Linked DNA regions of Homo sapiens. The protein of the gene in region 2 interacts with the protein of the main gene of each other region in a pairwise test. Each region holds a gene or a part of one and is shown on either strand. Other genes may lie near its edges.

Region 1 (7,112 bases), on a different chromosome or scaffold from region 2:
GGCAGGGGTTGCAGTGAGCTGAGATTGTGCCACTGCGCTCCAGCCTGAGCAACAGAGCAAGACTCCGTCTCAAAAAACAGAAATTCTTTTTGTAATATTGTTTCCTGTCTGCTGTCATGTGCTGAGTTGTTCTAAGCCAGTGTTGGCTGTTTCCTTGTTCTGTCTTTCCCTTTGTTCTTACATCATGTATGTCTCATGTACTTGGTTATCTTGGTGGTGGGATCATCTTCTGTGGTCAGAAGATGCAAATGAATCTGGCCTCAGCATTATGGGTTCTGAGTCCCTGAAAAATAGCATCCTAGGACAGTGGTGCATGATGTCAAGAGTTTTATTCAAATCATGACAGAAACCTCTTCTATTTCAGTAGTATTTTTGGGGCCAGACAAGTAAGCACACATGATTTCTGTATCGTCTTTTCTCCTTCATTCTTGTTTTTGGTTTTGTTTGTTTGTTTTTTGAGAAAGGGTCTTGTTCTGTTGCCCAGGCTGGAGTGCAGTAGCTTGATCTCTGCTCACTGCAACCTCTGCCTCCTGGGCTGAAGCACTTCTCCTGCTTCAGCCTCCTGAGAAGCTGGGAATACAGGTGCATGCCATTATGCCCAGCTAATTTTTTTTTTTTTTTTTTTTTTTGAGACAGAGTCTCACTTTGTTGCCCAGGCTGGAGTGTAGTGGTGCGATCTTGGCTCACTGCAACCTCCACCTCCCAGGTTCAAGCAATTCTTCTGCCTCAGCCTCCCAAGTAGCTGGGACTACAGGCGTGCACCACCACGCCTGGCTATGTTTTGTATTTTTAGTAGAGATGGGGTTTCACCATATTGGCCAGGCTGGTCTCAAACTCCTGACTTCATGATCCGCCTGCCTTTGCCTCCCACAGTGCTGGGATTACAGGCATGATCCACTGCACCTGGCCTTCTCCATTGTTTTTTTTTTTTTTTTTTTTTTTGAGATGGAGTTTCGCTCTTGTTGTCCAGGCTGGAGCGCAATGGTGCGATCTGGCTCACCGCAACCTCTGTCTCCCAGGCCCAAGCAATTCTGCCCTCAGCCTCCTGAGTAGCTGGGATTACAGGCATGTGCCACCATGCCCGGCTAATGAAGGGTGGCCTGCCTCTCCACACCTGTGGGTGTTTCTCGTCAGGTGGAATGAGAGACTTGAGAAAAGAAAGAGACACAGATCCAAAATATAGAGAAAGAAAAGTGGGCTGGGTGCGGTGGCTCATGCTTGTAATCCCAGAACTTTGGGAGGCCGAGGCAGGCGGATCACGAGGTCAGGAGATTGAGACCACGGTGAAACCCTGTCTCTACTAAAAATACAAAAAAATTAGCCAGGCGTGGTGGCGGGCGCCTGTAGTCCCAGCTACTCGGAGAGGCTGAGGCAGGAGAATGGCGTGAACCCGGCAGGCGGAGCTTGCAGTGAGCCGCGATTGTGCCACCGCACTCCAGCCTGAGCAACAGAGCGAGACTCCGTCTCAATAAAGAATAAAAAATAAAAAAAAAAAAGAAAAGTGGGCCCAGGGGACTGGCGCTCAGCATACGGAGGAACCCTGCCTTCCCCCTGCCGCCACCAGTCTCCGAGTTCCTTCAGTATTTACTGATCATTATCTCTACCATGTGGCAGGTCAATAGGGTAATAGTGGGGAGAGGTTCAGCAGGAAAACATGTGAACAAATGTCTCTGCATCATAAACAAGGTAAAGAAAAAAGTGCTGTGCTTTTGATGTGCATATACATAAACATCTCAATGCCTTAAAGAGCAGTATTGCCTCCAGCATGTCTCACCTCCAGCCCTAAGGCGGTTTTCTCCTATCTCAGTATATGGAATATACAATTGGGTTTTAACACCCAGACATTCCATTGCCCAGGGATGAGCGGGAGACAGATGCCCTCCTCTTATCTCAACTGCAAAGAGGCCTTCCTCTTTTACTAATCCTCAGCACAGCCCCTTTACTGGCGTCGGGCTGTCAGGTCTTTCCCTTCCCATGAGGCCATATCTCAGGCTATCACATGGGGAGAAACCTTGGGCAATACCTGGCTTTCCTAGGCAGTGTTTTGTGTCCCTGGGTCCTTGAGAGTAGGGAGTAGTGATGACTTTTAACAAGCATGCTGCCTTGAAGCACTTGTTTAACAAAGCACGTCCTGCATAGCCCAAAATCCATTTAACCTTGAGTTGACACAGCACATGTTTCTGGAGCACAGGGTTGGGAGTAGGGTTACAGATTAACAGCATCTCAAGGCAGAATAATTTTTCTTAGTACTGAACAAAATGGAGTCTCTTATGTCTGCTTCTTTCTACATCGACACAGTAACAGTCTGATCTCTCTTTCTTTTCCCCAAAGGCTAATATTTTGTATTTTTAGTAGAGACAGTGTTTCTCCATGTTGGTCAGGCTGGTCTCAAACTCCTGACGTCAGGTGATCCGCCCAGCTCTGCCTCCCAAAGTGCTGGGATTACAGGCATGACCCACGACACCTGGCCCTTTTCTTCTCTCTTCTCTTTCCTCTTCCCTCTTCTCCCTTTCCCTCCCCTCTCCTCTCCTCTTCTCTTTTCTTTTTTGAGACAGGTTCTCACACTGTCATTTTTGTTACCTGGAGTGCAGTGGTGTGAATATAGTTCACACAGCCTCAACCTCCTGGGCTCAAGTGATCCTCCAGCCTCAGTCTCCTGAGTAGCTAGGACTGCAGGTGCACACCATCACACCTGGCTAATGTTTGTAGAGAGGTTTTGCTGTGTTGCTCAGGCTGGTCTTGATCTCCTGGGCCTGAGTGATCCCTTTGCCTTAGCCTCCCAAAGTGCTGGGATTGTAGGCATGAGTCACCATGCTTGGCCATTTTAAAAATAATTTCTGTAGAGACAGGGTCTCACCATGTTTCCCAGGCTGGTCTTGGATTTCTGGGCTCAGGTGATCTTCCTACATTGGGTTTACAGCTGTGAGCCACTGGTACTGGCCTCTTCCCCATTGTTAAGAACCTCAGAATTGTCAGTTGTACTCCTTGTCAGTTGTACTTTTTTTTTTTTTAAATCCTTTAACTGATTTGTACATGAGCTTGTAGTCTGATATTTATTCCCCTGAATAATCTTCACATCTCTGGACCTCACATCTTAATTTTATTCACATCTTCATCTGCAGTGGTTTCCAGTATTAGCATACAGGTTTTGTGTTAGCAAATGTGTACACTTTGTTAAACTGTCCTCAAGCAGAAGCTGCTGTGTTGTGCTTGTGTTTTCCTTGGCCTGGACAAATCCCTCTCTACAGCACTCGCATGTCATGAGGACATAAATTCTGCAGATGAGTGGTTTGCAGATGCAGGGATTGTAGACCCTGCCTCTACTCCCTGTGTTACATACATGGTTGTGTCCTTTATGTTATGAGGCCTCCTACATTCTGTGACCATTATAGTCCAGTAATAATACATAGCACCATCTTCCACCTGAAGCCAACATCCTGTTCCTCCAAGTACTTCCTTGGAGTAATTCCTCAGTTTTTCAGATACACTTGTGGGTGGTCTGTGCCTTCCCACCAGAGTTAACATGCACTTCACCAGCATTTTCTTGCTTTCAGGTTGTTGGTGTGGAGTGGAAGATGAGGCGGCACCTTCTAAGCAGAGTATTTATATACAAAGAGAGACTCAGGTCAGGACTCCTATGGCAGGTGTGTCTCCCAAGAAGGCCCACCCCTGTGAGATGTGTGGCCCGATCTTGGGAGACATTTTGCATGTGGCAGATCATCAGGGAACACATCACAAGCAGAAACTGCACAGGTGTGAGGCCTGGGGGAATAAATTGTATGACAGTGGAAACTTTCATCAGCACCAGAATGAGCACATTGGAGAGAAACCCTACAGAGGGAGTGTTGAGGAGGCGTTGTTTGCGAAGAGGTGTAAGTTGCATGTGTCAGGGGAGTCATCTGTCTTCAGTGAGAGTGGGAAAGACTTTTTGCTCAGGTCAGGATTACTCCAGCAAGAGGCCACTCACACTGGGAAGTCAAACAGCAAAACTGAGTGTGTGTCTCTGTTTCATGGGGGAAAAAGCCATTACAGCTGTGGAGGATGCATGAAACATTTTAGCACCAAAGATATACTCAGTCAGCACGAGAGACTGCTCCCTACAGAAGAACCTTCTGTGTGGTGTGAATGTGGGAAATCCTCTAGCAAATATGACAGCTTCAGTAATCATCAAGGAGTTCACACTAGAGAAAAACCTTATACGTGTGGGATATGTGGGAAATTATTTAACAGTAAGTCCCACCTCCTTGTACACCAGAGAATTCACACTGGAGAGAAGCCATATGAGTGTGAGGTTTGTCAGAAATTTTTTAGGCACAAGTACCACCTCATTGCACACCAGAGAGTTCACACTGGAGAAAGGCCATATGAATGCAGTGATTGTGGGAAGTCATTTACCCACAGCTCTACATTCCGTGTTCATAAGAGAGTTCACACTGGTCAGAAGCCTTATGAGTGCAGTGAATGTGGGAAATCTTTTGCCGAAAGCTCCAGTCTCACTAAACACAGGAGAGTTCACACTGGAGAAAAGCCTTACGGGTGCAGTGAATGTGAAAAAAAATTTAGGCAAATCTCTTCACTTCGTCATCATCAGAGAGTTCACAAAAGAAAGGGCTTATGAGTGCAGTGAGTCCAGTCTCATTAAATATTGGAGAATACACACCTGAGTAAGATCCTGTGATTGCAGCAAATGTGGAAAATGTTTACCCAAAGGTCTGCTCTCCTTGGATATTGGAGAGTTCACACTAGAGAAGAGTCCTTACAAGTAAAATAAATTTGGGCAGTTTTGTAGCCACACCTCTGTATTCCTTCAGGATTATAGTTAACACTGAATGAAGGCCTTACTAGTGTGACAAATACAGGATATTTATCCAGAAGTCTGGCTGCATAACTCACAGGAGAGCTGTCATGTGGGAGGATTGCTACATGGGAGGATTTGCTTGAGCCTGGGAGGCAGAGGTTGCAGTGAGCCGAGATTGCAACACTGCAGTCCAGTCTGGACCACAGAGTGAGACCCTGTTTCAAAAATAAAATATATAAATGACATCCAATAAAGTATGCATATTTGAGCTGTAGGATAAGTCTTGAATTTTCTTTTTCTTTTTTTTGAGACAGCCTCGCTCTGTCACCCAGGCTGGAGTACAGTGGCATAATCTCGGCTCACTGCAAGCCCTGCCTCCTGGGTTCATGCCATTCTCCTGCCTCAGCCTCCCTAATAGCTGGGACTACAGGCAACCACCACCACTCCTACCTTTTTTGTATTTTTAGTAGAGATGGGGTTTCACCCTGTTAGCCAGGAAGTTCTCAATCTCCTGACCTCGTGATCTGCCCGCCTTGGCCTCTCAAAGTGTTGGGATTGCAGGCGTGAGCCACTGCTCCTGGCTTGAATTTTCTTATAATCCCATGAAACCATCATCAGAGTCACAATAATGAATTTATCTAATCTATCACCTTTGTATTCACCTGGAGCCTTTATAAAGTTTTTCTCTATGCAGACAACCATTGATTTACTCTGCTGTATAATACTTTCCATTTTCTAGAATTTTCTGACTGATGTAATAAAGTGTTTCCTCTTATAATCCCTGGGTGCTCTCCTGCATCATGCTTATTTTGATATCAATGTAGACATGAGTTAATTTGTTGTATATTGCTGAGAAGTATAGTCTGCCATGAAATGTCATTATATATTCATTCATCCGTTTATGGATATTTGAGTTGCTGCTTGTGTTTTTTTGTGTTTTTTTTTTTGAGGTGGAGTCTCACTCTGTCCCCCAGGCTGGAGTGCAGTGGGGCAATCTCAGGTCACTGCAAGCTCTGCCTTCCGGGTTCACGCCATTGTCCTGCCTCAGCCAGTCCTGTGGACTACAGGCGCCCGCAAACACGCCTGGCTAATTTTTTGTATTTTTAGTAGAGACAGGGTTTCACTGTGTTAGCCAGGATCGTCTCGATCTCCTGACCTTGTGATCCGCCCATCTCGGCCTCCCATAGTGCTAGCATTACAGGCATGAGCCATCGCGTGCGGCTGCTTTTTTTTTTTTTTTAAAGACTGTCGACCAGGTTGGAGTGCAGTGGCGTGATTTTGGCTCATTGCAACCTCTACCTCCCAGGTTCAAGCGATTCTCCCACCTGAGCCTCCCACATAGCTGGGATTACATGCATGAGCCACCATGCTGGCTGTTTTTTGATTTTTAGAAGAGATGGGGTTTTGCCGTGTTACCAGGTTCATCTCAGACTCCTGGCCTCAAATGATCTGCCTGCCTTGGACTCCCAAAGTGCTGGGATTACAGGCCTGAGTCGTGAGCCACTGCGCCTGTAATTGATTCTGAGGCCAGGCGTGGTGGCTCACGCCTGTAATCCCAGCACTTTGGGAGGCCAAGGTGGGTGGATCACTTGAGGTCAGGAGTTTGAGACCAGCCTGGCCAACATAGTGAAACGCCATCTCTACTAAAAATACAAAAATTAGCCAGGCGTGGTGGCACATGCCTGTAATCCCAGCTACTCAGGAGGCTGAGGCAGGAGAATCACTTGAACCCAGGCAACAGAGGTTACAGTGAGCTGAGATCACACCACTGCACTCCAGCCTAGGCGACAGTTAGACGCTGTCTCAAAAAAAATAAAACAAAAACATTTATTCTGAGATAATGCCAGTACCCAGTGTGAAACTATTCCTGCAGTCACTGGAAAATAACCACTTTCTTGTAAGGAGATGAAATTTTGGAGCTCAGATGCCATGTTTATGCTGTTATTCAGATGCCTTTTTTATCTGTGCTGTAATTGTGAAAGTTGTAGCCACTGATGTGTACCACAAAGGCATTGGTTAAGTTGCTCTTCCTTTGAGATAGATGTCAATGTGAAAAAAGAAATTGAGGGCAGGGCGTGGTGGCTCACGCCTGTAAACCCAGCACTTTGGGAGGCCGAGGCAGGTGGATCACGACGTCGGGAGATCGAGATCATCCTGACTAACATGGTGAAACGCCTTCTATAGGGAAAATACAAAAAATTAGCCAGGCGTGGTGGTGGGTGCCTGTAGTTTCAGCTACTCCAGAGGCTGAGGCAGGAGAATGGCGTGAACCCAGGAGGCAGAGCTTGCATTGAGCGGCAATTGGCGATCGCAC
Region 2 (8,780 bases):
GACTTCAGTTGCAGATCTATAAACACATGTGTCTACAGGGTTATCACAAAAAATATATTTCTTACTCTGAGCCACAGTTGAAAGTTTTGAGAAACATGCCTTGGGGTTTCTGAGGAAAACCTAGTGGTCTGGAAAATGTAATTGCTCATAATAAAAATATGCTCAAATAAAAATATGAAGAATTATCTGTCAGTTTTGTATTTTCTCTCTTGGGGTACCTCTGTCACTGTAAGTTGGGGAGTTGCATCCCACCCAGCCATCGAACACGCTGTTGCCCATGAGGCATTTGAGCAGCATCTGGGGACTACAGGGCCAGCCCTGTCACTTCAAGAACCCACTGGGTCCAAAGCCTCAGCAAAAAATTTAACATATACATACTCTTCTCTCCATCCCCACCCCACCCTGGCTAGATTCCCTCATTAGATCATATGAACTTTTAAAAGAAGATGAAAAACAACATGAGCATTCTAAATGCTTCAGACTATATGTTCCAAATACACTCATTAACAGACAGAGAACTAAAGCCCAAAGCAACCAGCAACAGGTTCTGAATCATAGAACAGGGGACCCAAAACAAAAACAAGTCATCAAGTTGCCAACCCTAGGATTTGTTTTATTATCTAATTAATGTGCAATGTGGGAGAATTGGAAAATATAGATTACAAAAAGATTAAAAGTACATACAGTACAAAAATTAGATCATAACATGAGCATTTTTGTAACTTGCTATTTTTGTTAATATGTTTGCATATTTTGAGTATCTTTCCCACCAATAAATATACTTCTACCTCAGTGTTTTCCGTGTTGTTTAGTCTTTCGTGGTACGTAATTTATTTCCCTATTGCTTAATATTTGTTTCCAGCTAATGAAAAAAAGATTTCTTAATCACAATTTTTTATGAATTTATTTGGGGATTAAGATATTTTCATTTTAATTACAATTTATTCTTAGTTGTCCACTGAGGCATGAATACCCTAAATGATTTCCTGAATGTGCTCAATAAATCTTTCTTCAATAAATCTCCTGTGCCACTGCCCTTTAAGGCAGTATTAAGTATTTAAAGTCAATGTTCCTTCGTCACATACTTCAGTTTTACAAACAAATTTATAAATGGAGTCGGGGAGGTGGTTCTTTCCTTTCCTATCAATCAGTTTATAAATTCAAGAATATGAATTTCCTTGGTAGTAGTAGTGGCAAGGCAAGCACGTGAGCAGTGTAGGAGTTCGCACCACTGTGGCACATACAAGCAGTGTTTCCGAAAAGAAGATGGGGCTGTCATCAGATAGTACATGTATTAAGGTTTCATTTTTAAAAGTAAAAGGAATTCTCCACAATTAATTAGCTAATTGGAAAATGTTTATTAAGAATCTATTCTGTTAGATGCTTAATAGACAGACACATTGCTAGGCAGTGGAGATAAGTACTGTGTGGGATAAAACAGTCTAATAGGGGAAACTGACATTGATCAGTAATCATCCTATTGAATATGTAATGATGAAGGTAAGTGCCCAGAGCAGAAGGGCATGGTGCTGTGAGCACTCCGACCTGGACTGGAGTCAGCAGTGACTTCCCCAAGGAAATGAGACTTGAGCCTTAGCTCTGATAGACAAATAGGCACTAGTCAGGTGGGGAGGAATGTTCAAACTTCCCCAAAACAGAGGGAGTATAGCAAATAAAGACTGAAATAAGGCCATTATGGTTGGGACACAGAGTAAAGAAGGGAGGCCAGACCATGCAGGGCCTCACAGGCCACAGTAAAGAGACTGATTGTGGGGACTTCCTCCTGAAAGCTGAAGGAAGCACTGAAAGTTTTAATCAGGGGATAACTCGACACCTGAATGTCCCAGGGACATCTTTAATTCAACATATACAAAATCCAATTTAATTATCCCTCTTATTTCCAATTTCTGTAAGTGGCACTACCATTCTTCTAGTTAGTCCATTTAAAACTGCCCTCTTTCGCCAGGCACGGTGGCTCACGCCTGTAATCCCAGCACTTTAGGAGGCCGAGGTGGGCGGATCATGAGGTCAGGAGATCGAGACCATCCTGGCTAACACGGTGAAACCCCGTCTCTACTAAAAATACAAAAAATTAGCCGGGCATGGTGGCATGTGCCTGTAGTCCCAGCTACTTAGGAGGCTGAGGCAGGTGAATCACTTGAACTCAGGAGGCAGAGGTTGCAGTGAGCCAAGATCGTGCCACTGCACTCCAGCCTGGGCGACAGAGCGAGACTCTGTCTCAAAAAAAAAAAACCAAAAAAACAAAAAACTGCCCTCTTTCCCTTTATCCTTCATCCAATCAATTATCAATTTATTCCTAGATTTCCCTAATTCTATTTCCATGGTAACAGATACACTCAGTCAGTATTATTCCTGCTATCATCATTTCCATTTAAACCCTCTACCTCTTGTCTGGACTATGATATTAACAGTAACCTTCGAACTGGCCTTACTTCTCCTCCTACCCGCTGTCACCTTTTCCCCCAAACAAACTGAGCATAACCGCCTGTGCATCCTTCAAGGTCCACTTTGACCACCAGTAGTGTGGTGGGTCTCGCCTTCCTTTAGGTACTCTCAGCACTTTGACTTCTTTGGTTTCTAATATTAAGTAGCTTGAGTGGTGAGACTGTTCTCCTGTCTTCTGTTTCCTATGATGAGCAGTTAGTGCCTTGCACATAATACTGTTCAATAAGCCTTGATTAGAATGGATTGAGAGCAAGGCTAAAATGGACTCTGCTCCACTTTACTTAGAAAAAGAATTCCCCAGCTGACTTCCACTAAGTCTCCTCAGGCTAGGAAATAGCAGACCAGCTTTGCAATGTGCCCTGTCATGCCCTCACTGTCCAATGCTGTGCTCTGGTACCACAGAGAAGAGCAGGTCTGATGTTACTTTTTAACCTGTAAAGGATATGGACCTTTCTTGAACAGTTCAGAAGAATTAAAGCAGAAAATGTGGGAGTGACAGCGCAGCCTTAGAAGTGTGAGAGGTACCTTAGAGCTTTGTAATAGGCCAGTGTCTGTAATAGATAAGCAGACCCACAGAGAGGCACAGCTACTAATGAGAGGGGGCAAAGGAGTGTTTGTGTGACCTTGACCACATGGATACGGGTGGCAGAGTTTCCTTACTGACTAATTCAGGAGTCCTCTAAAACTAGGAGTTCATTGACTTAAAAAGTAGGCATTTGATGAGGATTAGCCCCAGATGGATTGTTCATGGCACCTACTGAAGGAGCTTTTCTTGTCTCAAAAGGCCTGAACTGTGTTGCTGCCAGCTTGCTTTAAGCCTTGAGTCTTCTTGCAGGGTAGAGGAGAAATTTGGATTCTGAAGTCTCCAACCATTTCGAAGTAGCAGAGGTGTAGGACCCCTGGACTAAATTGGTTTTAGGACAGGAAGGGAGACAGAGATATCATTTCATGCACGTAGAGTGCTTTCCAGTCTACGAAGCACCATTATGCCCATTTTCTTACATTATCCTTGTAACATCCCTGTGAAGTGGGCTGGGGAAATAGCCCTCATTCCATAGATGGGAAAACCAAAGTTGCAAGGCCTGTCAGAAATCGAACCAAAGTCATCCAGGCAAGGTGGTAGGCCTGTGATCCCAGCTACTTAGGAGGCTGAACCAAGGGAATCACTAAAGCCCAGGAGTTCAAGAAGAGCCTGGGCAACATAGTAAGACCTCATCTCTAATAAATAAATTAAATAAATAAATAAATAAAATTTAGGAAAGAAGTAGAACCAACATCTTCTGATCCTTAACATGTGCTGTCTCCACCCCCACCATGTTCTAGAAGAGGGAGAAACTGTTTAATAGCCCTTGCCACTTAGGTTGAAACTGATTAGCCTGACATCCTCAGCCATTGGCTGAACCTGTGCCCCTCTGCTTTTTGTCCACAGAGCCATGGGGGTGTTGATGTCCAAGCGGCAGACAGTGGAGCAGGTGCAGAAGGTGAGTCTGGCTGTGTCTGCTTTCAAGGATGGGCTGCGGGACAGGCCTTCCATCCGACGCACAGGTGAGCTGCCAGGGTCCCGCCGTGGCACTGTAGAGGGCTCCGTCCAGGAGGTACAGGAGGAGAAGGAAGCAGAAGCAGGAACCTCGGTGGTCCAGGAAGAGAGTAGTGCCGGCCGCGCAGCCTGGGAGCGGCTCCGAGATGGGCGCGGCGTGGAGCCTGAGGAGTTTGACAGGACAAGTCGATTCACACCCCCTGCGTTCATCCGCCCCACCCGGAAGCTGGATGATGACAAACCTCCAGAAATCTGCCTGGAGCCCAGAGAGCCTGTGAGTATCCAGTTAGGACAGGATCCTCAAGTCTTAGTGCATCAGGGAGCAGGACAGGGAAGATGGATGTGGGTAAGGTGATCCTCAAAACCGGAAAAATGGAGCTGAGTCCAAAAAAATCTTTGAATTTCTTCTGTAAGAATAAAATGTTTGTTATATCCTGGATTCATCTTAGTGAAAGGCTTGGGGCAATGGATGATAAAGAATGATGCTGTGGCAGGTCTTCTGTCGAACCTCCCCCTCTTCCCCGCTGCCATGGGTTTTCAACCATGGATAGTACTACACCCTGCGGGAGGCAATTGGAAATTTGGGAGGGAGGAGTTTGGGGAGGTCACAACACCAGGTGGCTACTGGTGTTTGGTACCAAGAAAAGCAGGGATGATAAATGTCCTGCAATGCCTGGAACAATCTCTCACAACAGATTGTTCTTTCTAAAAGTGCTAGTAGCTCCCTGTTCATAAACATGGTCACAAAGACATGAGCAGCTGGAAGGACCTCCTGGTTCTTGTCGTCCAGAAAGAAAACCTCAACAATGGCTTCAGTTGGGGCTGTTCCTCTAGGCTAATCTGGGAAGACTCAGCCCCATGCAGGTAGCTCTGTGCTTAGTGGCCTTGGAATCTTGCTGCCTACATTTACACATCCCTGTTTCCTCCTGCCATCTTTCTGCAGGTTGTCAACGATGAGATGTGTGATGTTTGTGAGGTCTGGACAGCTGAGAGCCTCTTCCCGTGCAGGGTCTGCACCAGGGTTTTCCATGATGGCTGCCTGCGCCGCATGGGCTACATCCAAGGAGACAGTGCAGCGGAGGTGACGGAGATGGCCCACACAGAAACAGGCTGGAGCTGCCACTACTGTGTAAGTCTGGACTGCAGGGACAGCAGAGGACTTGGCACTTTTCCTGGAGGCCCGGTCTTAGAACACTTGATTTTAGGCAGTGACCTAAAGAATTTTCCAATGGGCTGGGCGCGGTGGCTCATGCCTGTAATCCCAGCACTTTGGGAGGCCAGTGCCGGAAGATCACGAGGTCAAGAGATTGAGACCATCCTGGCCAACATGGTGAAACCCCATCTCTACTAAAAATACAAAAATTAGCTGGGCGTGGTGGCACGCGCCTGTAGTCCCAGCTACTCGGGAGGCTGAGGTAGGAGAATCACTTAAACCCAGGAGGCGGAGGTTGCAGCGAGCCGAAATCGCGCCACTGCACTCCAGCCTGGCGACAGAGCGAGACTCTGTCTCGAAAAAAAAAAAAAAAAAAAGATTTTTCCAATGGTACATACAAGAGACCTAGAGCTAGGATGGGGTTTCTCAACCTCAGTACATTTTAGGCTGGCTAGTTACTTGTTTGAGGGGCCAAGTGCATTGTAGGATGTTTAGCGGCACCCTGGCCTTAATCCCCTAGATGCCGGTAGCATACATCTCAATGTGAAGGTAGCAAAATCACCCCCGGTAGAGAACCTCTGAGCTAGGAGATTGACTGGGGCCTAATTACTCAAAAGTAATTCTGCTTGGAGCAGTTCTTTCTCTAATAGTCTATAGTTGTCATTCATTGTATCCATATGAAAACTAACCTGAGATCCTAACCAGCTTGCTTCCAGTAGGGGTAGATTCTATCACAGGAAAACTTCCTAGGCCTGAGATCCTCACTCAGCCTGCCACCTGACTCATAAGCATTTGCTCTTCCTCTTTGAAGTGGTTATTATGTGAATTAAATGACAAAGCTCTATTGATTCAGAACTTCGCAAATTATATATAAATGCCTTCTAACTTTTAATGAAGGACAGAGTCTAAGGTTTCCATTGAAAGCCAGATTTATATCCATTTCTCACTACACCTGAATAGAGTTCAAGTCTTGCCTTATTGATCTGTTGTCCTGCAGATATCGTCATTGTTTATTGATTTCAGAGTGAGGAGCACCTGCTGATCCCCCCTTCTTCCTGCTGCTTAGACGAAAGCAGAGATGTGCCACTTTCTAACAAATAACTCTTCCTCTATGGCTTGTTATGGAACAGCTATTTTCAGCCACTGAAACACCTGTCCCCATGGAGTACACTGCAGCAGACCCTGCTGTACCGGCGACCTTCTCTAGTGCCTGTCACCCCTTCCAAATGCCATCCTTTCATCTCGGCCACTCTGCTTTGCGGTGTGCTGCTGCTATAGGACTGGGGTGAAGGGGTCACCTCCCTAACCCCCAGGAACACACTGCTCCCTCCCCAGCTTCCTGACACAGTCCTACCATCATTGCCACCATGCTCCACTGGGCTTTTTACAGAGCCTCCTTCCAAGTACCTCTCCTTTCTTTCCTTCCCTTCACAGCCAACAAATCTTCTTCTTCTTTTTTTTCTTTTTATGAGACAGGGTCTCACTGTGTCACCTGGCTGAAGTGCAGTGGTGCGATCGTAGCACTGCAGCCTTGAACTCCTAGACCTAAGCAATCCTCCTGCCTCAGCTTCCTCAGTAGCTGGGACTACAGGCACAAGCCATTGCACCTGGCCCCACAGCCAAACTTCTTAAAAGAATTTCACCATCTCCTATGGTTTTTCAACCACCTATCATATAATCTGACATCTGCATCCATCATTCTGCAGAACTGTTGCTTCCTAAGGTCACCAGTCACCTCCTAATTGTCAAGTCCACTGACCTTTTCTGAGGCATCTTCTTACTTGATCTCTCTGAAGTATTTATTACTTCTTTATTCCTCTCTCTTTTCTTTAGGATTTAAGTATTTTTATGAGAATTATTGCATAAGATATGGAAATGAGAGAAAATAGAAAGTCAATAAAATCCCACCTCAGTGGTGTAACCACCGTTAACATTACCTCCCACATTCTGCAGCTGTCTTTGCTTGGTATCCAGTACCTTCTTCTCTACTGATGCTCTTCCAGCCTTAGTCTCTGACCATTCTTTCTCAATGCCCTTTGTTAGTTTCTTGTCTCAGTCCTGTTTCTCAGGGTTCTGTTGTTTAATACTCTTCTTTTCTCACTGCGCCCTCTTTGGTGACTTCATCTACAGCCACCATCTAAACACTAATGACTCCTATTTCTGTGTGTCCAGACCTAAATTTCCTGTCTCTTGCACTTATCCACCTTGATATCTCACAAGTACTTCACACTCATCATGCCCCAAAATGAACTCATCTTTGCCCCCAAACCTGCTCTTCCTCCACTCCTTATCTCTGTGAATAGTAATACCATGCCCCAGTTACCAATTCCAGTTCAATCTCTCCCTCATGCCTCACATCCAGTGAGTCATCAGGTCCTGATGATGCTGCCTCTAATATCTCTCTTCCCTTCTTCATTCTCATGTCTCAGTTTAGCTGCTCATCATTTCTTGCCTGGACTGTTGCGGCAGCCCCCAACTGCTCTCCACACCTCCAGACTCTGCCGCTCTAATCCATCTTCCACACAGCAGCCAGAGATCTGACCACGGCACTCCCCACTTGAAAACCCTTTGGTGGCTCCCTTTTGCCCTCAGAATAAAGGCCTAATTTGAGGGGCTCGATAAAGGGTATTGGAGGTACTTCATAGTAGGCCCCCTCCTTCCCTCACACACACACTCACATGTACTCCAAACCTCAGCCACACTGAACATCTCACAGTGTTACACACCACTGTGGCGCCCAGTGTTTACTAGGTGCTCAGTAGGTGTTTATTGAAAGTATGGTTTGAAAGAAAAATACAACTATTATATATTAGTTTTTAAAAAGTGTTATGGAAGAAAAAGAATGGTTTGAGTTCTTTATGAAATCCACGTATGAATACTCATGAAATATCTGCTCTTGTACTTTGCGGGTATCTCAGAGGAAGAAAATGACCTTGTACTAGAAAGGATCTTTGATAGTTTAAAGACTGTATGGTAACGTCAACACAATAAGATATTGGTGCTCCTTTGGAATTAAAACTTCTGTGGCACTACAAAAAAACTCATTTGGCTTTAGGAGCCTTGTAATAATGGCATCTTTTAAAACCATTCTGGGGTTATTTAAAGTGATACAACCCACTTGGAGCAGAGCTAGGATTAAACTTTTTTTTTTTTTAACTAAAATACATTTTTAGCACAGCCTAACACAGAAGCCAAGTAGATAAAAGGGATGGAGATGGAGCCGCTCTGCTTGATGGAGATAGGGATTCACAACCTGCCTACTCACTAGCCCCCTTATTCCCTGCAGCAGCTTCCTAAGGCACTTCCAAGAAATCCCTAGGTTAGCTCAGAGGAGAAAACCACTGTTTTAGTAAAGGGACTCAGTGCTGGAGTCAGGATATCTGGGTTCTTGGGGAAGATTCTGCCCCAGAGTAAAGACAACTCTGGCCAAGTCCTTTCTCCTCTCTGGGGCCTCAATCTCATTGATTGTGAATAGGAGGCTGGGATTAGATGATCTTGGAACTGCTTTCCAGTTGAAATTCTATTTCTAGCCCCCTTGACCCTGGCCTTTCTTACTGGCCTGTATGGCCACCGACTCAGCTCTTCCTTATTTTCAGGACAACATCAACTTGCTGCTTACTGAGG

The links.
Region 1: the proteins of PHF24 (region 2) and ZNF552 interact in binary tests that used the Homo sapiens proteins (3 or more experiments, as listed by UniProt).

What each region holds. Positions count from the first base shown.
Region 1 is NC_000019.10:57,805,546-57,812,657, reverse strand, and holds the end of ZNF552 (zinc finger protein 552), read left to right. Parts: intron 1-3,554; coding exon 3,555-4,618; 3' UTR 4,619-5,576; downstream 5,577-7,112. UniProt on the Homo sapiens protein: May be involved in transcriptional regulation.
Region 2 is NC_000009.12:34,967,400-34,976,179, forward strand, and holds part of PHF24 (PHD finger protein 24), read left to right. Parts: intron 1-3,895; coding exon of another isoform or gene 3,896-3,899; coding exon 3,900-4,277; intron 4,278-4,946; coding exon 4,947-5,132; intron 5,133-8,752; coding exon 8,753-8,780.